Regions from separate parts of the Homo sapiens genome. Here region 1 is linked to region 2. The links come from fine-mapping of genetic effects on gene expression. Tissue or cell type: whole blood. Region 2 holds a variant in brackets; the other region holds the start of a gene. All regions are shown on one strand. Distances are between the middles of the regions. Region 1 holds the start of GRAMD1B (GRAM domain containing 1B). Region 2 overlaps GRAMD1B (GRAM domain containing 1B).

Region 1 (12,795 bases), 33 kb after region 2:
ATCATTTATTTACTCATTATTAACTCATCAACAAACATCTATAGATCTATAGATCACTGTAAGAGGTCAGGTACAGTGCTGTGACGATACAAAGATGAACATGATTGGTCTTGGAGTATTCCAGTGAACACTGGAAAGTTAGTAAGCCATGCTGTCTTTACCATTTGTTCCACTTCTTCCTTCCTAGGGTTTAAGGAGAAGAAAAGGGTCTCCTAATCCTCTTCATATTTTCAACTTTGTGCAGTGAAAATCCGCAAGCTTGAGCTTCAAGTCAGTGACAAGTAAAAAAACAAACAAACAAACAAATAATGAAACAAATAATGAAAAAACAAAAATTAAAAGAAATCCACAAGCTATGGCCCTCTCAGCCACTTAACTTCTACCACATCACGCTGAATTTCATAGCAAGCCTGAAAGGTGTTTTTCTCTCTTTTGGAGCAGGAGATTTGGGGTGGGGAATGTGGAGACGTCATGCTGGGCCTGGTATGCTAATCCTCCCTAATCCAGGCCAGAGCAGAGCCATTTTCCAACCATCATTTCCAAATCCTGAATTGTGTGAGGAGGCTCAGGTGCTGCTCCAGGACACGTGAGTATGTAACCTCATACTTTTAAGCAAACATCCATTCCATGTGAGAGACTCACAGAGTAATGAAATAAGCCTTCACCCTTGCACAGCAAGAGGAAGTTTGCAAAACATTTTCACATTCACTACTCTTCAGACTTCCCATTAACCCACAGAGATCCTCTTCCACAAATGAAGAAGGTGAAACTCATGGAGGTAAAGTGAAATGCTCAAGCTAATCTCCATAGCTAATCGATGATAGAACTTAAATATACAGCTGTCTTCTGATATTAAGTCCAATGTTCCCTGCACTCCATTGCCTCTAAATGCCAATTCTATTTTCTTTTGGAAATGGAGTCTTGCTCTGTCGCCCAGGCTGGAGTGCAGTGGTGTGATCTCAGCTCACTGAAACCTTTGCCCACAAAGTTCAAGCAATTCTCATGCCTCAGCCTCCTGAGTAGCTGGGATTACAGGCGCGCACTACCATGTCCAGCTAATTTTTGTATTTTTAGTAGCAACAGGGTTTTGCCATGTTGGCTAGGCTGGTCTCGAACTCCTGGCCTCAAATGATCTGCCTCCTCAGCCTCCCAAAGTGCTGGGATTACAGGCATGAGCTACCACACCCCGCCACCAATTCCTTCTCAGGCCACTTGGTGGTATCTACGAGCACCTATTCACTTGATTGCTGCTTTTCTTGGAAGGAAGCCTTTCATCTTCGAGGCCTAAAAATGATGGGGCTTTGTTTTACACACAATCCAAATAGATTCCAACAGAAGGCAGTATAACAGTAGCTAAGAGTAGATGTGAGTCACACGAATTTGAATTTGAATCCAGAGTCTGCCTTTTCAGATACATATGTTCTTGTTTTTTGTTGGTGGTGGTTTTTTTTTTTTTTTTTTTTTTTTGGAAACGGAGTCTCACTCTGTTGCCCAGGCTGGAGTGCAGTGGCGAGATCTCGGCTCACTGCAACCTCCACCTCCTAGGTTCAAGCAATTCTCCTGCCTCAGCCTCCCGAGTAGCTGGGACTACAGGTGTCCACCACCACACCTGGCTAATTTTTGTATTTTTAGTAGAGACGGTGTTTCTCCGTGTTGCCCAAGTTGGTGGCTAACTCCTGAGCTCAGGCAATCTGCCTGCCTCATCCTCCCAAAGTGCTAGGATTACAGGCGTGAGCCACTGCGCCCGGCTGATACATAGGTTCTTCTAATCCAAAAGTCACCACTTAAAATAACTGCCTGAACTACATCTAGATGAAAATCCTGCCAAATTTTAAGGATATGTCCCCAAATCCAACAAAATGAAGGTTCCACTACACACATAGACAACTCTCGAAACCAGGAATACCTTCCTAAATCTAACCAAATCTACTGTCATCCCCATCCTAGCCAGCAATGCAAGATTTTTTTCTTCATACACACAAAGACACACACACACACACACACACACACACACACACGCACGTAACATTTTAAGCGTTGGGGGTGGGGGTCTCACCATGGCTGAAATGCAGTGGTTATTCACAGGCACCATTATAGCCTACTAAAGCCTTGAACTCTTGGGCTCATGTGATCCTCACACCACAACCCAAGTAGCTGGGAATACAGGCCATGCCATTGCACCCGGCTCTTTTTACCATATTTTGTCCTCAGTATATATGGCAGAATCTCAAGATCAAAAGAAGGTCTCTTTTAGTTTCTTTTACATTGGAGGGAAAAGCCGACAAGCCATGACAAACTACTTTATTTATTTATTCATTTAAGATGAAGTTTCGCTCTTGTTGCCCAGGCTGGAGTGCAATGGCGCGATCTTGGCTCACTGCAACCTCCACCTCCCGGGTTCAAGCAATTCTCCCGCCTTGGCCTCCCGAGTAGCTGGGATTACAGGCACCCGCTACTACACCTGGCTAATTTTTTGTATTTTTAGTAGAGACAGGGTTTCACCATGTTGGCCAAGCTGGTCTCGAACTCCTGACCTCAGGTGACCCTCCCGCCTCACCTCAGGTGACCCTCCCGCCTCAGCCTCCCAAAGTGCTGGGATTACAGGCATTAGCCACCGCCCCTGGCCTGACAAACTACTTTAGTTCAAGGTTAGCTCCCACCAAGCTTGCCCCATTTCCCTCTACTCTGTGAAAAGGGTAGCAGGATGAAGTACCAAACAGAAAGAACTTCTATCCCCAGCGTCCACAAAAATCCACGGAACAAAGCTCTGTATCTGCACCTGCTGAGAGAACCATGCTCAGTTGTTGCAAACAGAAAAGATAAACTCTGGAAGGCCCAAAATGCCCATCTTCTGCATAACGGATCCTACTCCTCAGTCCCCACCCCGCAAAGACACATGGCTCATCCTGTTTCTCCTGCCATTCTTCATATTGTTCCCTTCAGCCAGTCTTATGCACCCAACCTCATTCTTTTCCTGCTGTTTTCTACTACCCATCTGTATTTGTCATGGTGTCAGCCTCTTCCTTCAAGAAGTCTTCCTCTACTTCTCCAGAACTCTCTCTTTTCTAGTACAATCAGTACCACACAGCACAGTATGTTTTCCAATGGCTCCCACAGGTCTTCAATTTTTTTTTTTTTTTTTGAGACAGAGTCTCACTCTGTGGCCCAGGCTGGAGTGCAGTGGCACAGTCTTGGCTCACTGCAGCCCCTGTACCCAGGTTCAAGCGATTCTCTTGCCTCAGCCTCCCAAGTAGTTGGGATTACAGGAGCCTGCCACTACACCCAGCTAATTTTTGTACTTTTAACAGAAATGGAGTTTCGCCATGTTGGCCAGGGTGGTCTCGAACTCCTGACCTCAAGTGATCCACACGCTTCGGCCTCCCAAAGTGCTGGGATTACAGGTGTGAGCCACTGTGCCCAGGTGTTCATTTCTTATACAAGCCTCCCCTCATCTTCCTTCTCAGCCTCTACAACCCCTTACTCTACCTATCCTTCCCCCACACCCTCCTCAACATCACCACTATTAGCTGTTACTAGACTGAGCTCACAGAAATATTCAGTAAGTACTTACTGAATTGAAATCAATGTAATTGAACAGATTTGGAGAAGGAATTCCAGGGAAAGTGATCAATGACTCAGTTGCTCCGCACAAGAACACAAATCCATTAAGAGACAGGACCCTAAAGTCTCAAAGTAAATATGTAGGATTCGTGGTACCGATGAACAAGTGAGGACTCCCTGCCCTCCACCAGGCAAGGGGCTTGGCTCAGACACAACTTCCTGAAGCAGCAGTCCTGACCAGGGCTGTGTAGAGCTGCTCTAGGGCGCCCTGCAGCAATTCTCTACGTGAGGGAAGCTCAACCTTCTCCCATTACCCAGATGCCACATTGACCTAGGCAAAAAACTAGCTGGTACAAACCACAGTCTTGTAGGTATCGATGTCTAAAGACTCTGATATGGTAGGAAATGTGACTCACTCAATGTCAATATTTCACTTCCACACAAGTGAGCCAGTTAAGGCAATCCGGTGTGGCCAAACATAAAATAAGATTGAAACGGAGTCCTGAAATATAAACCACTTAACTGTTCTCTGGCCTTTTACTATCTCCTTCTGTAGAAAGGGAGCCATAGTAATACCTACCTCAGAGAGTTTGCGTAGGGATGAAATCTGGAGGTACATGAAGTGCGCAACATAGTGGCCCGCACATGGTAAGGGCTCAATAACTATTAGCTGTTATTATTTTTATTATTTATTTCGCTGCGAGGATCAAGGGAGATGGAATGCAGCGTAAAGCCCCACGTAAACGTGTCGTGCAACATGAAGCCCCTCACCCTGAGTTGGGGAGCGGGTGGCACGCGTGGAAGCTGAATGCCACCATCCCTGGGACCAGGCGCAGCGCCCTCCAGAAGCGCCTCTGGTGACGGGCTCCTGTTCTCCCCCAGGACGTTTCCCCCAGAATGCCCCGGGGCCCTGGACGGCTCTGGAGAGGACGGGAGGGAAGGGAAGGAGACGGGCGGAACGGGGACGTACCTGCTTTCACTGCACTCCTTCCGCTCCCTCACCCTCAGCCACTTGCGGAGGAGGAAGCGTTTTCGGCGCGGGGACGCGCTGGGTGTGGAGCAGTTGGACCACGGGGTGTCCTCGTCGCTGGAGGGCGTGATCTCGATGGACGGCAGCTGCAGGAACTCCTTGCCGGGGGCCAAGACGGCGGGCAGGTCCCGGGCCAGCCCGGCCTCCAGGCTCTGCTCCTGTACGTTCTTCATGCGGCGCATCTTGAAGCGCCGGCGGCGAAGCGTGGGGGTCGACGAACTGGACCAGACCGGGCTGCCCTCGGGCGCACCCTGCGGCTCGGGCACCTGCAGGGCGGGCAGCGGCCGGTTCTCCATCATGTTGGCCGCCGGCATGGGGGCCGTCGCCTCTGCGCTCCCCCTGAGCCCTCCGCCAGCGGCCTGGTTCGCGTCTCCCTCTGGCTGTTCCCCACCCTCGGCCCCGCGGCACACTCCCCAATCCTGGGGCCGAAGGAACAAGTTCCTTTCCCGGAGCGCAGCGAGGAAGGGACGCGAGGGGACGCGGCGTAGCGCGCCGCCGCCCGGAGTCTAACTTTTCGGAGCGCGCGTCCTCCGGGCCGTCAGCCGCCGGCGAGGCCACCCGGGAGGGGCGGGAGCCGCCTGCCAGCCACTCGGCAGCCCTCCTGGGGCTCCCCTCGCGCGCCCGCTTGTTTTTCTTCCGCTGCGCTTCCTCGCTTGCTGGCGTCTTTGCCTTAGCGGGACTCGGCAGCCAGGGGCCCCAGGGGGCGGTGCAGCAAACTCTCAGCGGTTTGCGTTCAGCAGACCAGGTTGGGGAGCCGGCTTGGCGCTGCAGGGAGGTAGAGAGCGGGAGGAAGAGGCAGTGGTAGGAGGGAAAGGGAGAGAGAGACAGAGAGAGAGAGAGAGAGAGGAAGCGAGACACTGGATAAAAACAAAAAAGGAGGAGGAGGAGCGGGGGCTGGGGGCGGGGTGAGGGGGGCTATCCTGAATGGGCTAGCACTGGCAGCGACCGCTAGTGTAACTGTACACGGATTCCCTCGGGGAGGGACTCGACCTCCAAGTAAAGGCTGCTCCAATCAGCCTACTGAAATAGGATCACAAACCAAACTTTCTCAGGGCAACGATTGGCCAGGCAACTCCCATTAGTCGAACTCGGCTATTTCCTTGGGGGTGGGGGGTGCAGAGAAAGGGGAGTCAATGAATTCAGTCCTCACTCTCTCAGGCCACCCATGATACAGGGTTGAAGGAAAATGAGGAGACTTTTCAACTAGCTCTTGTCTCCTAAGAAAGGCAGTTTAAATTATTTGGGGGCGTGAGTAGTGGCACTGCAGGCCGGAGTATAGTCAGAGGAGGAAAGCAAGGTTGCTGGAGGCTGCTTCCAAAATGACAAGCTGAGAAGAGGACAGTTCTCCCGTGGCGGCGTGAGCTGAGGATACCAGACATGACATACCAAGGAAAGACAGACAACAGGGTCTGAGAGACAAAGGACACAGGACCAGTAAGGAAAATGGGGCCTGAACCCTGTACATGAGCCAGCTGCCAGTACCATAGCCGCGTCCCTAGCAAAGAATGAAATGAGGAGTCGGTGAGCACCCACAAAGCAATGCATCCAACAGAGCCCCAGGGAGTCGAGGGTACCCCCCCTTACATTGCTGAGGGCTGATTCAGTTCTGCTTCAGCCTGCCATGGACTGAGTCACAGAATCCAGTATGTCCCCATGTCATGGAACCTAGGAAGTCTGGTTCAGTCCTGGTAGCATCCCAAGATGTGCTGAACCACACTCACTCTCTAGACCCAGGCCCTAAGAGATCATCAACCCTAGAACCGATCCATCCTATTTAGGTGCTCTCTGTGGGCACTGAGTCTAACCCAGCCCAGCTCCTAGAGCAGGGCTGTAGCAGCCATTCTCCTCCTTCAACCCCAGCCCAATGCATTTGTCTCTTGGGTCAGTAACTGTTTTGTTTTGTTTTGTTTTTAAGAGACAAAGTCTCACTCTGTTGCCCAGGCTGGAGTGCAGTGGTGCAGTCATGGCTCACCGCAACCTTGAATTCCTGGGCTCAAGCTGTCCTCCCAGCTGAGCCTCCTGAGTAGCTGGGAGTACAGGTGCGCACCACCACACGCAGCTAAGTTTTATTTCTTTTTGTCGATATGAGGTCTTGCTATATTGCCCAGGCTGGTCTCAAACTCCTGGCCTCAAGTGATCTGCCCACCTTGGCCTCCCAAAGTGCTGAGATTACAGGCATGAGCCACCATGCCCAGCCTGGTCAGTAACTTTCAAAGAGATCATGAGAAGCACCCAAGAACATACCATGAAGTCCACAATCTGATCCACCCTTCTTTTCTGCCTCTCTCAGAGTCCAGTTTCCATCTGGGAGCCAATGCCCAGCTTCCGTGCCAGGACAAAAGTCACATTTCACAAGTGTCCCGAAGCTGAGGAAAATTCACATCCCTAAAGATCACAAGAATTCACTGCAAGTAAATACATCCCTGCAGTTCAGCAAGACATCAAGGATGACAGCTGGCTATGGATCTACCAAGCTCTGCAATGACACTTGTCAAGTATGGAAAAGCTCAAGGCATCCTGACATTACACAACTTTTGAGAGGCTGGGAAACCAAGGGAAATATTTCTTCCTCAGGGAGAGAGATACTGCGGCTGAAGAGCCAAGGCCAGGCCCTCCCATAAATGACTCCCTGGAATGTCAGCCCCCGTTTCTGAAATCCAGCCACTGGCCCTCTCAGGAGTGATTTGGTTTCACTCTACTTTAACTCCTGGACATAGCACAGAAAGCAGAAACCCCTTGCCATCAGGTGTCAGGCCTGCCAAGGTCACCTCTTCCGGCTCCAGGGATGCTGAGGAGATTGCACTGTAACTCCAAACTTCAGGATCGGGAGCTAAGCCAAGTTCCACAGAGTTTGTTCACTGCCTTGTACTTCCTCCAAGGACGAGTGTTTTGCAAGGGATCTGATAACTTCCCAGTTCAAGGAACCTGAGTTTTGGGCGGGCTCTTGACATAGAAGATGAGGGTCTCAGGGGCTTATGGGAAGAAAGGAAGCCAGGACACCACCATTCGCTTGGAGGCCAAAAACACAAAAGGATGGTCCACAAGACAGGGGCCAGAAGATTCTATGGGCAGCTTGGGAAGAGGGAGAAGAAACAAGGGAGGAAGCTTTAAGTTTGTTCTGGGCACTCTGAATTTAAGTGTATACCTCTTACAAGGAAGAAAAGCCACCAGCACCCTCTTCCCACACACTTCAGCCACTTTTCCCACTCACAGTAGATTCTGGAACTGAAATCCTGTGAGATTTAATTCAAGCCTTGGGCACAGCAGTGGCTAAGAGTGATCATTTACATTTCACCCGGCCTGAGGGAAAACCTCCAAGCAGGAATCTAAAATGTTTCACTTGATTGGGAAGCAGATACCCTGAGCTCTCTTAGCCTGAACGCTGTCCTTACTCACTTGCACCTGCAGTCCCTTCTTTTTTTCAAGCCATAACCCTTTTGACCGTTAAAACCCTGTTCAAAACACATCCTTCAGCCCTTTCCAGCTGTTTCTGTTGCCCATGGCTCTGGCAAGTAAGATAATAAATGAGGCACTGCTTTGAAATATGAAATGCCCTACAGCTGTGAGCCAACATTACTGTTAAGACTATAAGCTCCTTGAGAAAAGAATCAAGTTTCTCCTTCCTTTAATTCTCTCCAGTATCCTGTGCTTGTTATGTGTATGGTGACCTTTACACTTTTGGAAAGAGCTTTCATACATCACACTGTGTCTTCCCAGCGGCCTTTACAATTGATGAAAGTGGGACAGAGAGATTCAGTAGTTTATCCAAGGTCACAGATAAATGATGATGGCTAATCAATGACAAGGCCAGAATTGGAACTCATGCCTTCTGAAGCCAGTTTAGAGGCCTCCAAAAGTGTAGAGAAACAATTTCTCAAAGTAGCTGGTGCCAACATCAGAACCAAAGAGTTTTCATGCCCTGCGTCAGAATCTCAGCGATTGCACTTGCTCCCCAAGTCTCCCCACTCCCATATTTCTTCTCTCCAATATTTGGCTCTCAGCGACCGCACAGTTCTCTGTGAAACAGACCTCACCTTTGCCCCCATTCCCCGCTTCCCCAGACAGGTGGTAACCAGAACAACCCAGCCTCCCCTTTCCCCACCTGCAGCCAGGCCTCTGACTTTAAATGAAAGGAGGTCATATTACCAAGCAACTGTTGTTTATTCTCAGCTGCACAAGCTCCCTTTTCCTACAGACACAAGACACCCAACACCTGTCTATTACTTCTGGAGACTCATAAACTACTATTATTATTCAATTTCCAGGGGAAAACTTTAGTGAAACATAGTAGCTTCCAGACTAGATTTCTCCTGGGTACACATCCAAGTAAATGTGAACTGGAAGGCGCTGGCACCCCGGACACCTTATTGCACCTGCTCCAGGATGCCAAGGCAGGGAACTCCCAAAGACACAGGAATGTCTCCCCACAACACTGTTGTTGCAAGACAGACAATCCCCACTCTCAACACTGGGACACAGAGTCTCTCCCCTACACAACATTCGAACGGCCAATCCCAACGGTTGGCCCATTATGAGGGAAAGAAGCAGGCAGTGAGCATAGAAGAAGTGGAATTTGAGGCTGGCAGGGAAGCTGGAAATACGGACAGAAACGTGGATGATGCTGAGAGCAATGTTGACTGTCTTCAAACACACAATGAAGGATGGCCAGATTTCACTCTGCAGCTCTCATTTTGCTGCTGAGCAAGAGGAAATGCATTTCTGTAGAGTGCAGCATGGGGGATTTGGGATAGATGATAAACATTTACCGAGTGTAAGGCTGGTTAAGGACTGGCCTGAATGACTAAGACTGGGTAGAGAATGGCTTTCTCTGTAGGTCTTTTAAAGGTAACTGGAGCCTACTTAGAGGCAGTGGCAGGAAAGAGATGATCTCTTAAAGGCCCAGCCCACCCTACTACTGTGGGTCTCTAAGACCCAGATTGTTTCTTTTTAAAGTAGAAGCAATTCACTTACACCTAAAACAAAGTCTGTTTGAGCTGACCTGTTACTGGCTCAAAGGCATTTTGATCACCGGATGCTAAACACCTCCCTGAGACCCACAAATAGCTTTAATATCTTGCACTGGTGAACTAGAAATACAGGGATCAATTACCAGGATGGTGCTGAAGCAAGGAAGTGAGGGTTCGGGGATGAAGACAGGAGAAAGAATTGGAGGGAATAACTTAAACTCCTCCCCATGGTATCTCCTTTTGTTTCTTTCACGAGTCCTCCCTTCATTTCCCCAGGGAGGGGCTCACTACTTTAAGAAGGGTCAGAGGATGCTGCACTGAATTGGTGTGGTTAGAGAAGCAGTGTGGAGGAGGAGGCTGGTGCTGGTTAAATACAACCTAAATCAAACCACAGTTGACCAACCACCACATCCAGCTTCTCCTTCCAAGGAAAAAGGGAGAAAATGCTTCAGGACTTTGATGGAGACTCAGTTTCCGAGAATAGAGCCCTGGGCAGTGCTCTCAACCTTGGGGAGTACACAGGGTCAGCTCTTTGTTTCCAACAGCCCTCACAGGGGCCAGGGTGAGCAGTGACGTCACCTCAGGAGAAGGACTGTCACCAGATAAGCCTCCTTGGTTTAATCGCTCATCAAAAGGCTTAGGCGTCAAAGAAGAATGTTTTGCACAATATTTGGCTGCCCTTGTACTTGACACCAAGGATACCAAGGCACAGAAGGACATCATCTCTTGTCCTCTAAATCTTGCAAGGACTTATGTGCAAACCAGGGCTGCAAAAGACTTTCTGAGGTCGCCCCACCTGTCCTTGGCTGCCCATCCCAAGGAAAGCAGGTGGCATGTGCTGGAATTTCTGCTGTTGCTTTCCTCAGAAGCATTGCAAAATATCATCAGCTTATACTAACTACCGACTAGTGATTGAGTGTGCAGACCCAAAATCAAGCCACCTGAGTTTTGGACCTGTTTCCATCACTTGCTAGCAGTTTTATTACGGTTAAGTTATTTAACTTCTCTGCAACTCAGTTTCTCATCTGAAAAATTAAGTAAATAAATAGCATCTCCTTGCTGGAGTGATTGTGAGCATTAGTGCTGTGTAGGGCACTTAGAACAGAGTTTGGCACACAGTAAGTGCTCCATAAATGTTAGCCTTTGTTATGTATAAGTTTCCTTTATAATACCCTTCGTAGGAAACAGGACTATTCTTGTTGATTTTCAACTCAGTTTAATTCTACAAGTAGTTGTTACGCTAGAACACTGTGTAAAGCTCCTTGTTCAGGAAGTCCTTGGGATATAGCTAGATAAATAAGATACACATGGTGCATTGGAGCACATGATCCCTCAAAGCAGAATTAATTAAGTGCAAAATACAAGTGCACAAGAGGTGTGACTGGAAAGATTGATAAATTTTAACTAGAGGAAAAGAGGTAGTCTAAGCAGGTCCTATGGAGGAATGGGTATTTAAGTTAATACTTCAAGTCAGAATTTCAATAAAAAAGAATAGGGTGTTAGCAGTTTGAATAAAAGCATTGAGGAGTGAAAACTCACAAAGAGGTTTTGAAAATAGGAAAAGATAAGTCAGAGCATAGGGTGAGACATACAGGATTAGACAATGAGGCTGGACAAATGAGGGGTCAGATTGCAGTGCAGAAGGGTTTTTGGTTGGTTGTTTGTTTTTAATTAGAGACAGGGTCTTGCTATGTTGTCCAGGCTTGTCTTGAACTTCTGGTCCAAAGGGATCCTCCTATCTCAGCCTTCCAAAGTGCTGGGATTACAGGTGCGAGCCACCACACCTAGCCTAGTGTTGAATTATAGATTTTATTCTTTAGGCAAGGGTTGCTATTCAGATTGGTTTGGGTTTGGTGGTTTTCTTTTTTCTTTTTTTTTTTTTTTTTGGTGTTGGGGGACTGCATTACTAACCTGTATTTGAGAAGCATCAACTCTGGTGACAGCATGAAATTTGAATTGGAGAAAAAAGCAGATGGGAACCATAAAAACCAATTAGGAGACTATCATTCAATCAGCCAATATTTTTGGAATATTGACCATATGAATGGCAAATAGTTCTGGTAAGAGATGGAGAAAATCTGAAATAGGGCAGGGGAAAAATGTGGAATGAGAGGAGATAGGCAAGGAAAAGGAGGAACCTCTGGAAGAAAACCAAGAAACAGCAATCACTGGGAAGCCGAGGGGAGAAAGGAGGCGTTTATTGCATGGCTACACTAAGCCAGGCGCTGTGCTGAGTGCTTCACCCACAAAATCCCAGCTGACTCTTGCAACAACTCTGAGAAATAAATATCAAAAGCCCTATTTCAAGATGATGAGAGATTTTACAAGGTGACTTGCCCAAGTTCACACAGCTAGTAGAAGATGAACACAAATTTAAACAAGGGTCTCTTTGCTTTAAAACTTATACTTTTTAAAGTATACTACATTTCAAAGAGATAAATGATGCTATATCCTATAATGAAGTCAGGCAGAAGAAAGACAGAGATAATTCCATTAAATTTTGTAATTAGGTCATTGATGACCTCTGAGACAACAATTTCAGTAGAGTGGTCAGAGAAGAAATGAGATTGCTATGGGTTGAAGAGTAGTTAGGGAATGAATTAATGGAAGCTGCAAGATTAGACTGCCCTTTCCAGAAATTAGTCAGCAAAAAGAATGAGGGACATCTATTTTCAAATAGTTTTTGAGCATCTACTAAGTGTTAAACATCCTTCTAATGCCTAGAGTTAGACTGTGAAAAGTTACTTGTGGTTGGAGTGGGAGCAAAAGGAGAGAGAGAAGAGAAGAGGAGAGAGGAGGGGAGTGGAGGGGAGAAGAAAGGAGAGGAGAGGGAACATTTGGGGTTGGGGATAAGGTTTTTTTTTCTTTTAATCTGTGTGTGTGTGTGTGTGTGTGTGTCTTATTGTTGGTAGATGTTATGTTTTAGAGGAACAAAATGTGACTGTATGATTATGCCATTTACAATGGAGTTCTGCCTATATCTGCTAAGAAAATTGGAGCTTCGTGGTGTACCTGGTAATCTAGCAAATCAATCAAAAAGTATTTAATCTTCCCAGACTCTAAGCATACCTTAATAGTAAGTAGTGTGAAGTTTCTGAAAAGTTTATGAAAAATGATTATTGCTTCCTACAAATATTTTTTGAATGCCTATCAAAGATGACTCTGGCCTCAGTTGCTTCAAATCTGGGGGAAGGGAGGAAGGAGCAGAAAACCAGTCCAAGAACTACAATTTGGTAA
Region 2 (12,795 bases):
CTCACCATCTTGCCCAGGCTGGTCTTGAACTCCTGGACTCAAGGAATCCACCTGCCTCAGCCTCCCGAAGTGCCAGGATTACAGGCGTGAGCTACCGCACCTGGCCTGCACTAACCTTTATCATAACAATTATCATACTCCTTGGGATGCAGCGATTAATGATTCATTTCCCTAAACCTTCTACCATACTATAAATTATTTGAGAGCGATGGTCCCATTGTGTCATTTTTTTCCACCCACAGTGCCTAGCACATATTAGGTGTATAATACATATCTGATGAATGTGCAAATATCTAGCCCTATCCTCCCTTGATGTATTTGTAAAAGTCTCCACTTCCACTGAGTACTCACTGGTCTGCCCAGAAAGACGCCTTGCTGAGTACTCTCAAATCAGCACAGATTGCACCTTCCTTCCTTGTGCATACTTTTTGAACATCTATGTTGAAAGTACCCTGAGGCTGGGTGCGGTGACTCACACCTGTAATCCCAGCACTTTGGGAGGCCAAGGCGGGTGGATCACGAGGTCAAGAGATTAAGACCATCCTGGCCAACGTGGTGAAACCCTGTCTCTACTAAAAATACAAAAAAATAGCTGAGTGTGGTGGGCATGCCTGTAATCCCAGCTACTCGGGAGGCTGAGGCAGGAGAATCGCCTGAACCCGGGAGGCAGAGGTTGCAGTGAACTCAGACTGCGCCACTTCACTCCAGCTTGGCGACAGAACGAGACTCCATCAAAAACAAAAAAGGAAAGAAAGAAAGGAAGGAAGGAAGGAAGGGAGGGAGGGAGGGAGGGAGGGAAAAGAAAAGAAAGAAAAAGAAGGAAGGAAGGAAGGACCCTGCTAGGCCGTGCTGGATGTGTAAGGCATGGCCCGTGACCTCAGGGAACCCACCACTCCTGATATGTCATTCATCCATCCATGTTTCCACCAACTATGTTTTAGGCATTGGTTCCAGACATCTGGCGATGCCGACTTGAATTAGACATATGTGGACCTTCCCCATAAAGAAGCCACTGTAACAAAACCCGCCAGAATCTTCCTAATGCCAGGGCTCCTCTTTCCTGCCCCCGTGTCAAAGTTGTGGTCCAATTCTCAGTTATCCAACATGAGGAAGCTGCATCTCAAGCCTGACAGCGCCTCCATGAGAAGGTGGGCAGGAAAGAATATGGCTCTCCATTTAGGCACAACCAGTGAAAGTCAGTAAAAAAAAAAAAAAAAAAAAAAGGTGTTGAAAACCAAGGCTACAACGTTTTTGTTTGTTTCTTTCTGAATTATCTATGAGTATTAATTTTTTAAAAAATTGAGACAGGGTCTCCCTATGTTGCCCAGGCTGATCTTAAACTCCTAGGTGCAAGCAATCCTCCCACCTCGGCCTCCCAAAGTGCTGGGATTACAGGCGAAAGCCACCACACCCAGCCTATCTATAAGCTTTAACTTTTCATGCCAATCCTTAGCTCTCGTGAATACAGATCATGAAGCTCTGGCTAGGAAAAATAAATAAATATTCTTTATCCTTTTTCACAAAGGGTAAATGATCCCTCACCTACAATAAAATTCTAGGCCTATCACCACACATAATTAAAATAATTATACTTACCCCATTATATTCCTCAAATGGGTTCTGAGAAAAGGGGCAAGGAGAAACTGTCAGCTTTAACTCTCTTCACTTGCTCTTAGGTAAAGGAGCACACCACCTTTTTCTAGTTTCCCACATCCTACTAGCTTCCTTGGCCTCAATCACTACTTAACTTCACAGTGAAATCTTCAGCTCTCTCAAGAGAATAAATACAAATTAACCAGATCCCTTACTAAACCTTTACTCAGAAGGTAATGTGGTCAACCAAGTTGCTTCCCAGAACTTGAAGTTTGTAAGAATTGGTCAAAACCCTGGACCAGCCTCAAGGCCAGCCTCCCTCCACTCTCCACACACGCACCATCCCCTCACTTTCCCCCACCCCTACTCCCTGGGTCCCCTTCCTGCCTGTGGAAAATCTCTTGCTTCCCAATGCAGAGTATCCATGTTGGAGAAAGAAGTCAGTGCTGAAAAGCTGCAGAAAGTTCTTAAGCCCAGGGCAAGCCAGAATCCATTTTATGCCCAAATCAGTCAGTCAATCTTTTTCTTTCTTTCTTTTTCTTTCTTTCTTTCTTTTCTTTCTTTCTTTCTTTCTCTTTCTTTCTTTCTTCCTTTCTTTCTTTTTCTCTTTCTTTCTTCCTTTCTTTCTTTTTCTTTCTTTCTCTCTCTCTTTCTTTTTCCTTCCTTCCTTCTTTCCTTCCTTCCTTCCTTCTTTCTTTCTTTCTTTCTCTTTCTCTCTCTCTCTTTCTTTCTTTTCCTTCCTTCCTTCCTTGACAGAGTCTCACTCTGTCACCCACGCTGGAGTGCAGTGCTGTAATCCTGGCTCACTGCAACCTCCACCTCCCAGGTTAAAGCCATTCTCCTGCCTCAGCCTCCCAAGTAGCTGATATAACAGGCGTCCACCACCACTCCCAGCTAATTTTTGTATTTTTAGCAGAAATGGGGTTTCACCATGTTGGCCAGGCTGGTCTTGAACTCCTGACCTCAAGTGATCCGCCCGCGTAGGCCCCACAAAGTGCTGGGATCACAGGCGTGAGCCACCATGCCCAGCCCAAATCTTTATTTTCAACAATCAGTATGATCTTGAGCCCTTTAACTAAACTGCTCCAGTTTAATGAGGAGTTCGAGTATTTTCTCCATCCATTTCCTCTCACAGAGTCAGGCCAGTACACACAGAGAGCTTTCACTTCTGTTTCCTACAATGTCCCAACTTCCTCTCCACCAAGAACCCTCAAACAATATTCCTAAGTGTGTTTCTTTTTTTTTTTTTTCTTTCGAGATGGAGTTTCACTCTTGTTGCCCAGGCTGGAGTACAGTGGTGTGATCTCAGCTTACTGCAACCTCCGCCTCCCGGGTTCAAGTGATTCTCCTGCCTCAGTCTCCCTAGTAGCTGGGATTACAGGTATGCACCACCACACCCGGCTAATTTTGTATTTTTTTTAGTAGAGATGGGGTTTCACCATGTTGGCCAGGCTGGTCTCAAACTCCTGACCTCAGGTGATCCGCCTGCCTCTGCCTCCCAAAGTGCTGGGATTACAGGCATGAGCCACCACACCACGCCCCAAGTGTGTTTCTAATGAAAGACACACAACTACCATTCAGAGCTTCAGGTCAGCCTCCAAGGACATGTCTTACCACACTGGATTGATAGAATTCAAGCCAAACAAAGGAATGTTTTAGGTTGTCTTGTTACAGAAAAATGTACGTGTGGTTTCTGTTAGGCTTCTGGAAATGCGAAAACACCTAAAGGAACTCCTCTCTCTAAGGAGCCATCGACTTGGGCTTTCAACATACATACCGCTCTTTGCTTGATCTCTACTTGGCTTCTCTTCCCCTACCAACCTCTGAAAAGTTGCCCCTAGAGTTCCATCCAGAGTCTCTTTCTCTTCTCACATGACACATTCTCCTCCAGCAATGCCATCCATATCCATGGCTCGGACAAAAAGCCACATGTTCACTCCCAAACCTGTATCTAAAACTCCTAGTGTTCCACCAAGCTCCGGTCCCCCATATCCAGCTGTTTACAGGATGTCACCAAAACCCTACCTCCCTAGGCTCATCGCACAGCCTGTCCAAAACTACCCCTTCCCGCCTCCCACACCCTCACTTCTCCCCAACAACTTCCATCTGCCTTCCTTAGCTCAGTCACCTGCATCACCATCCCTCCACTTAGCTGTACAAACAAGGAAACACAGAAATAGTTCCAGCAGTTCTCTCTCCTCCACTCCCTACCTTCGATCTATCACTGAGTTATATTAGCTCCCACCTTTGAAACATCTTTTATATCCATCCTCTCCTCTCTATTCCTATTATCCTTGCTCTAGTCCAAATATCAGTACCACCTTGGCTGCATAAGAATCACCTGGAAACTTTTTAAGAAAAGAAAAAGGTTCCCATTCCCTCATTGATCCTGGATTCTGATTCAGGGGGCCTGGGTTGGAGCCTGAAGGAGTTTTAACAGGCATCTCAGGTTTGAAAACTACTGACATCCCACTCTATTGAAACGGTCCTTTATCTGTGCTGACAAATGTTTAACAACTAGATTGGTGGAGGGGGCTGATTTATATTATTTGCCAATTTCTGCCATGTATACTCCCACCATGATTGATTTCTGCTATCGGTGAAATTGGCATTGGGAAATGATATGCACAATCGGCGTCTACAAGTGGATGCCAGCTGGCCCCAGCATGCTAATGTGCCTAGATGTTATTATTATTATTATCATTATTACTATTTTAGAGGCCAAGTCTTGCTAGCTCTGTCTCCCAGGCTGGGGTGCAGTGGCATGAACATGGCTCACTGCAGTCTTCAACTCCCAGGCTCAAGCAATCCTTCCACCCCAGCCTGCCGAGTAGCTGGGACCACAGGTGTGCACCACCACACCCAGCTAAATTTTTTTTTTTTTTTTAGAAATGGGGTCTCCCTTTGTTGCCCAGGCTGGTCTTGAGCTCCTCGGCTCAAGCGACCCTCCCACCTTGGCCTCCCAAAGTGCTGGGATTACAGGCATGGCCCACCCCTGTTATCTTCTAAAACAGCTCTAGTCAAGTCTCTTCCCAAGTTACAGTCTCTTGAAGTCTTCCTATAATGTCATAGAATACAGTCCAAAGTTTTCTGCCTGCCACACAAGGCCTTACTACATGAAACTGACTTCCCCAGCAGAAAGCTCTTCCTGAGGCCTTTACACAGTTTTCCTTTCTGGGGCTCGTGCTCCCCAAATCTCCCATGCACATTCATTCCTGCAACTTCGTGCATGTTGTGCTCTCCACTTTCTCTTCATTTCCCTTCTATATGATCCATATCTTCCACCCTGGCCTATTGGGCGCTGTGTCACACAGAGGCCTGTCCCTTCCCTTGGTGCATTCAAATATTAACTCATTGACTTTTTTCTCTGCTGACCCAGAGCTCTGTCTCCTTTGAGCCATAGGACTAATGACAAATCCAAGTTGGCACAGTTATTACCAGTGAGACGGTAGCTCTGCCCGTGTGGTGGAGAGAACCTGTTGGCTACATCAGAGAACACCTCCTTTAGTGCAAACTCTGGCTGCTTTTTTCAATTCATTCAAGATACTGCATACTAATATGTTGTATTTAATACTAGGAATAAACCTTCCCATTAAAACACTTCTTCCCCATCTACAAAGTGCTCCCATGTATATGCTTCCAACTTTTTACCCTCATCAGGTAAATAAGAAGTGTATACACTCTGATCCCCATTTTAAAGATGAAGAAAATAGGCTGGGCACGGTGGCTCATGCCTGTAATCCCAGCAATTTGGGAAGCCAAGGCGGGTGGATCACTTGGGGCCAGGAGTTGGAGACCAGCCTGGCCAACGTGGTGAAACCCCGACTCTACTGAAAATATAAAAAATTAGTCAGGCGTGGTGGTGGCCCATGCCTGTAGTTCCAGCTACTCGGGAGGCTGAGGCATGAGAATCACTTGAACCTAGGAGGCAGGGGTTGCGGTGAGCCGAGATCGCGCCATCGCACTCCAGCCTGGGTGACAAAGTGAGACTCCATCTTAAAATAAATAAATAAATATAAATAAATAATAAAGATGAAGAAAATAAGACTTCACAGGGATACATGGCACGTCTATGAGCAAACTGTGCTGGTAAGCTAAGAAACAGGGATTTCTTTTTTTTTTTTTTTTTTTTTAATTTATTTTTTTATTGATAATTCTTGGGTGTTTCTCACAGAGGGGGATTTGGCAGGGTCATGGGACAATAGTGGAGGGAAGGTCAGCAGATAAACAAGTGAACAAAGGTCTCTGGTTTTCCTAGGCAGAGGACCCTGCGGCCTTCCGCAGTGTTTGTGTCCCTGATTACTTGAGATTAGGGATTGGTGATGACTCTTAACGAGCATGCTGCCTTCAAGCATCTGAGAAACAGGGATTTCAGTTTAAGGTTTTTTGTCCCTGAATTCTTTATTCTTTCACCTTAAGCACACTCCAGTGCTGGAGCGTAGCATTCACTTGGAGAAGGGGTGGGTGGCAGGGATAACCTCACTGATGAGACTGAAGGGACTCTGAGCTTGGGCTGGGACTCAGGGGCTGAGCTGAGCTTGAATGTTCACTCTGCCACAAGTGTCAGCCGTCTCTGCTTTGCAGGTGGCAGCCCTCAGCTAGAAAGCAAGAGCATCTGGGAAGTCCAAGGCAAGTGAAAACCTTGAAACAAGAAGTAACGAGTCTGCTCTGCCCAGTTTGAGGCAGTTTGTCAGGGGATGGCACCTGCCACTGAGGTCACAAAGCCACAGGTGAAACCATAGAAATAAACAAATGACTGGCC[C/G]GGCACGGTGGCTCACACCTGTAATCCCAGCACTTTGGGAGGCCAAGGCGGGCAGATCACGAGGTCAGGAGATCGAGACCATCCTGGCTAACATGGTGAAACCTCATCTCTACTAAAAATACAGAAAAATTGGCCAGGCATGGTGGCGGGCGCCTGTGGTCCCAGCTACTCGGGAGGCTGAGGCAGGAGAATGGCGTGAACCCAGGAGGTGGACCTTGCAGTGAGCCAAGACCGTGCCACTGCACTCCAGCCTGGGCGACAGAGCAAGATCCCATTTCAAAAAAAAAAAAAAAAAGAAATAAACAAATGACCATACCAGAAAAAAAAAAAACCTGCACTTGAAAGTAGAGCTATCTTGGCCGGGCGCAGTGGCTCATGCCTGTAATCCCAGCACTTTGGGAGGCTGAGGCGGGGGTATCGCATGAGGTCAGGAGTTTGAGACCAGCCTGGCCAACATGGTGAAACCCCCGTCTCTACTAAAAATACAAAAATTAGCCGAGTGTGGTGGTGGACACCTGTAATCCCAGCTACTCGGGAGGCTAAGGCAGAAGAATCACTTGAACCCAGGAGGCAGAGGTTGCAGTGAGCCGAGATCACGCCATTGCACTGCAGCCTGGGCAACAAGAACGAAACTCTGTCTCAAAACAAAACAACAACAACAACAAAAAGTAGAGCTGTCTCAACAACCAGCTGGGGAAGAAACCATAGACAATCCAAAAAAGACAGAGCAGTGTGCCAAGGCATAGGCCAGGACTTCCCAGAGCTAGAGCCAGGGCTGGAGAGACTTCTAGGAGGCCAGTGACGTTTGGCCTGCAGCCCAAGGGGGAGTCTTTGGGAACCAGAGAGGCCAGCACCACCTCATTTAGCCACAAGGACAGGAATCACAAGGGCTCGGCCAGCTGCAGACAGAAATGCTGGTGCCCTGGGGGACTCTTAGGAAACAGTCCTGGTAGCAGTGCCAGCTTGGCTTTTCTGCCAGCTGAAGTCAACATAGCTTGATTTAGGAGCCAACCTGGAGTCAGTCGGGGCAGCTGATTCCCCAGAAAGACGACTGAACTGACAAGAACATTTTAGAAGCAGCCCAGGCAACAGGAGCACTGGTCCATTCACATCTGATTGAAGACCAAACTCAATTAAGACTCAATATGTTTTTAAGACATTTTTTATGACTATGGCTTCCCAACTGGCTATTAATTTTGCTATCACCTGTTTCCCTCTAGTCAACACAAGCCAAACCTCTTAAAAAGCCAAAAATATGTGAATTCCAAAAGGTCACGAGGTGGGAAAGACACAGAGAGCCTTGTGTTCTTCCTGGACGGCCCAGGAAAGAGGCGCCCAAGGAAAGGAGAAGCTGATGCACCTGGGAAGGCAGATGGATTCTTGGGTCCTAAAGGGACAAAGGAAACGTAGGAGCAGGGGATTCATGCAGAAACCCTATCAAAGACCAACCGCTCTAGTGACCTCGGAGCTCAAGGACAAGCAGCCCGCAAGCTGTGCTGTTTTCCAGAAAGAATCCTTTCAGCTTCCTGCCTCCCCTTCCCTGCCCCACTCCTGTCCGCCCCCCAAATCCTGCTGACCCAACCACCATCCAATTTCATTTGCCCTTAGCCCCGGGAAAAACTGGCTTATGGTAAAAGCATTATCTTGTTTTTTCCAATTGGAAGACATAAAAACAGTCCTAACCAAAAACTCTGGTCATTAACACTCACAGAGTGCCCTGGGGGGCCTGGGGAGAAATCCCCGCATTGACTGGGGCTGGAGTCACGGTGTCTAGGTGTAATTGCCACAAATCTGCCCAATCACGCTCCTGGCCTATATCCAATTAACCCTCTTCAAGTTCAGTCCCGGAACCCACTGAACTTGGACAAGAACATAAAAAGGATTTTGATGGTCCACAAAGTAGATAATTCATGTACTTTAATTCATCTACTATATTTTCTACTATATTCATCTACTATAATTCATCTGTTTCCACAATGCCATTTTCCACTCAGGATTAAACTCCATGTCTTCTCTGCCAAGCACTTTGACAGCCTTCTGATAAGCTTGTCATACCACACATGGTCACTTTTCAGTAGCATGGAGGCAACAGGTACTGGATAATTCAGGATATCGAGCAGAAGAAAACAGAAGTTGACTAATCCACAAACCATTTATTTTTAGTTTGAGAATTTTAATGAAACACACACACACGTATGTCCAATCACACTCCTGGCCTATATCCAATTAACTCTCTTCAAGTTCAGTTCTGGGACCCACTGAACTTGAAGGGACAAGGGTGAGGACAAGGACATAAAAATGGACAAGAACATAAAAAGGATGTTGATGCTCCATAAAGTAAATAATTCATTCACTCAGAAAACACTTTTTGAATGGCAATCTGTACACAGAAAACAGATGAGAGGCAAGCTTTGGGTGAGCCAGGTGTCCAGTGAGAAGGTAGCAGAACAAATTTACCTAAGACCCAGCCCTGCCCTCCAGAACCTCAGTGTGTGTTTAGGAACAGGACTTAAAGTATAAAGATAGTTGTGAATAACCAGTTCACATCATAGGGGAAGGGTCAACTAACAGGTATTTGAGTACCTAGTATATGGATTTTTTGCACACTATCTCACTTAAAAGTCAGTATTTGAAGAAAATAATATTCTTCTCTCTCTTTTTTATCAAACTCAATTCTTTTATCTTCAATTCCTTTAAATCATGAATATGGCCGACCACAGTGGTGCATGCCTGTAATCTCAACAATTTGGGAGGCCGAGGTGGGTGGATCATCTGAAGTCGGGAGTTGGAGACCAGCCTAGACAACATGGCAAAACCCCACCTCTATTAAAAATAGAAAATTAGCCAGGTATGGTGGCTCACACCTGTAATCCCAGCTACTCTGGAGGCTGAGGCAGGAGAATTGCTTGAACCCAGGAGATGGAGGTTGCAGTGAGCCCAGATCATGCCACTGCACTCTCGCCTGGGTGACAAAAGCAAAACTCCATCTCAAAAAAAAAAAAAGAAGATAAGGGTTCATGAAGATTTTCCCATGATCAGCAAATTAAAAAAAAATATATAGAAGTGTCTTATTTCTTTGCAATCAAATACCCCAATCTGCCCTAACTCCAAGGGCTGGTCACCATAACTATAACCCATCTACAATGCAGTGCATGTTCTTTGTCATCTACACAGCCTCTGCTACAACAAGCTCCTAGAAACACTTTTCCAAACTCATGGCTAGGAAGGCCATTGTGTCTGTGATTGTCTGAATATTCTGTTAACTCCGCTGTGTATTACGGTGTGCATTAAGCATTAAAGTGATTGTTCTCACTGAGCTCAGACTCAGAGTTGGGGGGAAATTACAGGAGCACAAAGGACTAGCCCCAAAAGAACCTCCACTTCAATCACCAAGCCATACCTGGAACTACCCATTTGCAGACTTGAAATTTGAAAATAACCCACCCGTATACACACTCTACATGTTGAGAGATACTTGTTCTTATCACTCAGAATGCTCCCATTCTCCTGGAATTTTTTGCCCATTACTCACATTGGGGAGTATGAAGAGGAGGGGAAAAAAAAAAAAAAACAAAACAGCCTTTCACTGTTTCCTTATCTAGGATACTGTTCATCCTATAAATCAAAAAAGGGATTTGCATCAAATTCTTTATGACCATTTTCTTCTCAGATTGATTTTAGTGAGAAGGTAATTGTGATGGTTAATTTTAGGTGTCAGTTTGACTGGATTAAAGACTACCTAGGAACCCGGTAAAGCATTATTTTTGGGCGTGTCTGTGAAGATGTTGCCAGAAGAGATCAGCATGTGAGTCTGAGTGGACTAGGTGCGGAAGATCCGCCCTCATTGTGAGTGGGCACCATCCATTCTGCTGGGGGCCTGGAAAACAAAAACTGAGAAAAGGTGAATATGTGAATGGAACTGCCAGAGTTGGATTATATTCTTCCTCTCTCTGTCCCTCAGTGGCTCTCTGAGTTCTAGGCCTTTGGCCTCAAACCGAGAGTTACAACATCAGCTTCTCTGGTTCTGAGGCCTGCAGACTTGGACTGAGCCACGCTACCAGCATCCCAGGGTCTCCGGTGTGTTGTGGGACTTCTCAGCCTCCATAATCATGTAAGCCAATTCCCCTAATCCCCTCCCCTCTCCTCTCTCTCTCTCTCAGAACTCCAACTAGGTTCTGTGTAGCATACATACGCACTTATCGTGGAGTCATGCATAAAGTGGTACTCATCTATTTAAAATATGTGGCAGCCAGGCATGGTGGCTTACGCCTGTAATCCCAACATTTTGGGAGGCCGAGGCAGGAGGATTCCTTGAGCCCAGGAGTTCAAGACCACCTTGGATAACATAGCAGGACCCTGTCTCTACAAAAAAGTGGAGAAATTAGCCAGGTGCGGTGGTGCATGCCTGTAGTCTCAGCTACTCAGAAGCTGAGGTAGGAGGATCACTTGAGCCCAGGAGGTCGTGGCTGCAGTAAGCGTGATTGCACCAGCGCACTCCAGCCCAGGCGATAGAGTGAGACCCCATCTCAAAAAACAAATACATAAAATAAAATATGTGGAAAATAGAGCACGGAGCACAGTGGAGCAATAGCACCAGAGCCAGGCTCATAAGGCTGGGTCCAGCACTGACTCTGTCATGGACTCCGTAGAACACAGAGCAAGTTGCCCCATTGTTCTGAACTTCAGTTTGCTTATCTGTAAAATGAACAGAGTGTGCTAGACAATCACATAGGCCCTGTCTAGCCTTAAAAGTCCCATGACGCTAAGCTAAGAAATCTTCCATTAAGCCTGTTTGAAGGCTAAGTGGAAGACACAAAGATTGAGAAAGAAGGGAGTTGCTGGCTATTCTAAAACACGTGAACTAAACCACGAGGGTAGGCTGACGCTGGCTGGACAGTGGGGAAAGAATAGCAGTCTAAGAACAAACGTGGTTTAGAGGCAGCTAACAGAGACACAGAAATGTGGCTTCCTGGTTCACTTCCTGTATGCTCATTTGATAAGTGTGTCCTTTAACTGTTACTCTCTTTCCAGGTTATCATTTTATAACAATCTCTAATTTTATTAATAAAATCATGAGCCGATACTTCACAGCAGGAAGGGATTCGAGGGATAAACTGTTCTAATTCTTTCTTTCTTTCTTTCTTTTTTTCTCAGAAAGGGTCTCTCTCTGTCACCCAGGTTAGAGTGCAGTGGTGCCATCACAGCTCACTGCAGCCTTGACCTCCTGGGCTTAAGCAATCCTCCCATCTCAGCCTCCCGAGTACCTGGGACCACAGGCATGAGGCATGTGCCACCACACCTAGTTCTTTCTTTCTTTTCTTTTTCTTTTTTTTTTTTTTTTTTGAGACAGAGTCTCCCTCTGTCGCCCAGGCTGGAGTACAGTGGCGCCATCTCAGCTCACAGCAACCTCTGCCTCCCAGGTTCAAGTGATTCTCCTGCCTCAGCCTCCACAGTAGCTGGGACTACAGGTGTGCACCACCACACCTGGCTAATTTTTGTATATTTAGTAGAGACGGAGTTTCATCATTTTGACCAGTCTGGTCTCAAACTCCTGACCTCAAGTGATCTGCCTGACTCAGCCTCCCAAAGTGCTGGAATTATAGGCGTGAGTCATTGCGCCTGGCCACACCTGGTTATTTTCTGTATTTTCTGTAGAGACGAGGTCTCATGACATTGCCCAGGCTGGTCTCAAATTCAGGGGCTCAAGTGATCTGCCTGCCTCAGCCTCCCAAAGTGCTGGGATTATAGGCATGCGCCACCACACTTGGCCCCAATTTTTTCTTTTTCAAACAGGAAACCAACAGCCCAAAGAAGGTAAATGACAAGTGTAAAGTCACAGAGGTATTTAGTAGCACTGCAAAGAATAAAACTCGAGTTTGCTGACTCTCGGGGCTCTTTCCACAACACCAATGCTGCCCTTAGAGAACAAGAATGTCAAACTCCTGGTGGGCAGAGAAGGCATCTGAAACTTTTTTCTTAACCCTCTGGTGCTTCTGCTGACAAGAAGGATAACTGTTAACAGTTGCTCATTCTATAAAATGGATATGCCATTGTTGAGTGTGTTGTTCTTTTTTGTTTTGTTTTGTTTTTGAGACAGTCTCTCTCTGTCGCCCAGGCTGGAGTACAGTGGTGCAATCTTGGCTCACTGCAACCTCCCTCCACCTCCCTGGTTCAAGCGATTCTCGTGCCTCAGGCTTCCGAGTAGCTGGGATTACAGGTGTGTGCCACCACACCCAGCTAATTTTTTGTATTTTTAGTAGAGACAGGATTTCACCATGTTGGTCAGGCTGGTCTCGAACTCCTGACCTCAAATGATCCGCCCACCTTGGCCTCCCAAAGTGCTGGGACTACAGGAGCGAGCCACCCCACCCGGCCTGGTTGAGTGTTTTCTATATGCCAGGCTGTTTTCTAACCACTGGGAACACAGTAATAAACAGATG

The links.
Region 1: GRAMD1B starts here. The variant in region 2 is fine-mapped to the expression of GRAMD1B in whole blood (TOPMed, PIP above 0.99).

The regions. Positions count from the first base shown.
Region 1 is chr11:123,422,903-123,435,697 of GRCh38, reverse strand. GRAMD1B (GRAM domain containing 1B) reads right to left here and starts at 5,429. Exons shown (of 20, transcript NM_001387025.1): 1 at 4,532-5,429. The coding sequence starts at 4,905. LOC124902776 (a long non-coding RNA gene) reads left to right here and starts at 4,484. Exons shown (of 2, transcript XR_007062928.1): 1 at 4,484-4,751; 2 at 6,882-10,622. RefSeq lists silencers at 4,802-4,851, 4,962-5,291.
Region 2 is chr11:123,455,823-123,468,617 of GRCh38, reverse strand. The region is part of intron 1 of GRAMD1B (GRAM domain containing 1B); the gene reads right to left. Among named protein-coding and RNA genes, the nearest start is that of GRAMD1B, 32 kb to the right of the region's middle. The variant C/G (reference allele first, on the strand shown) is at 6,356.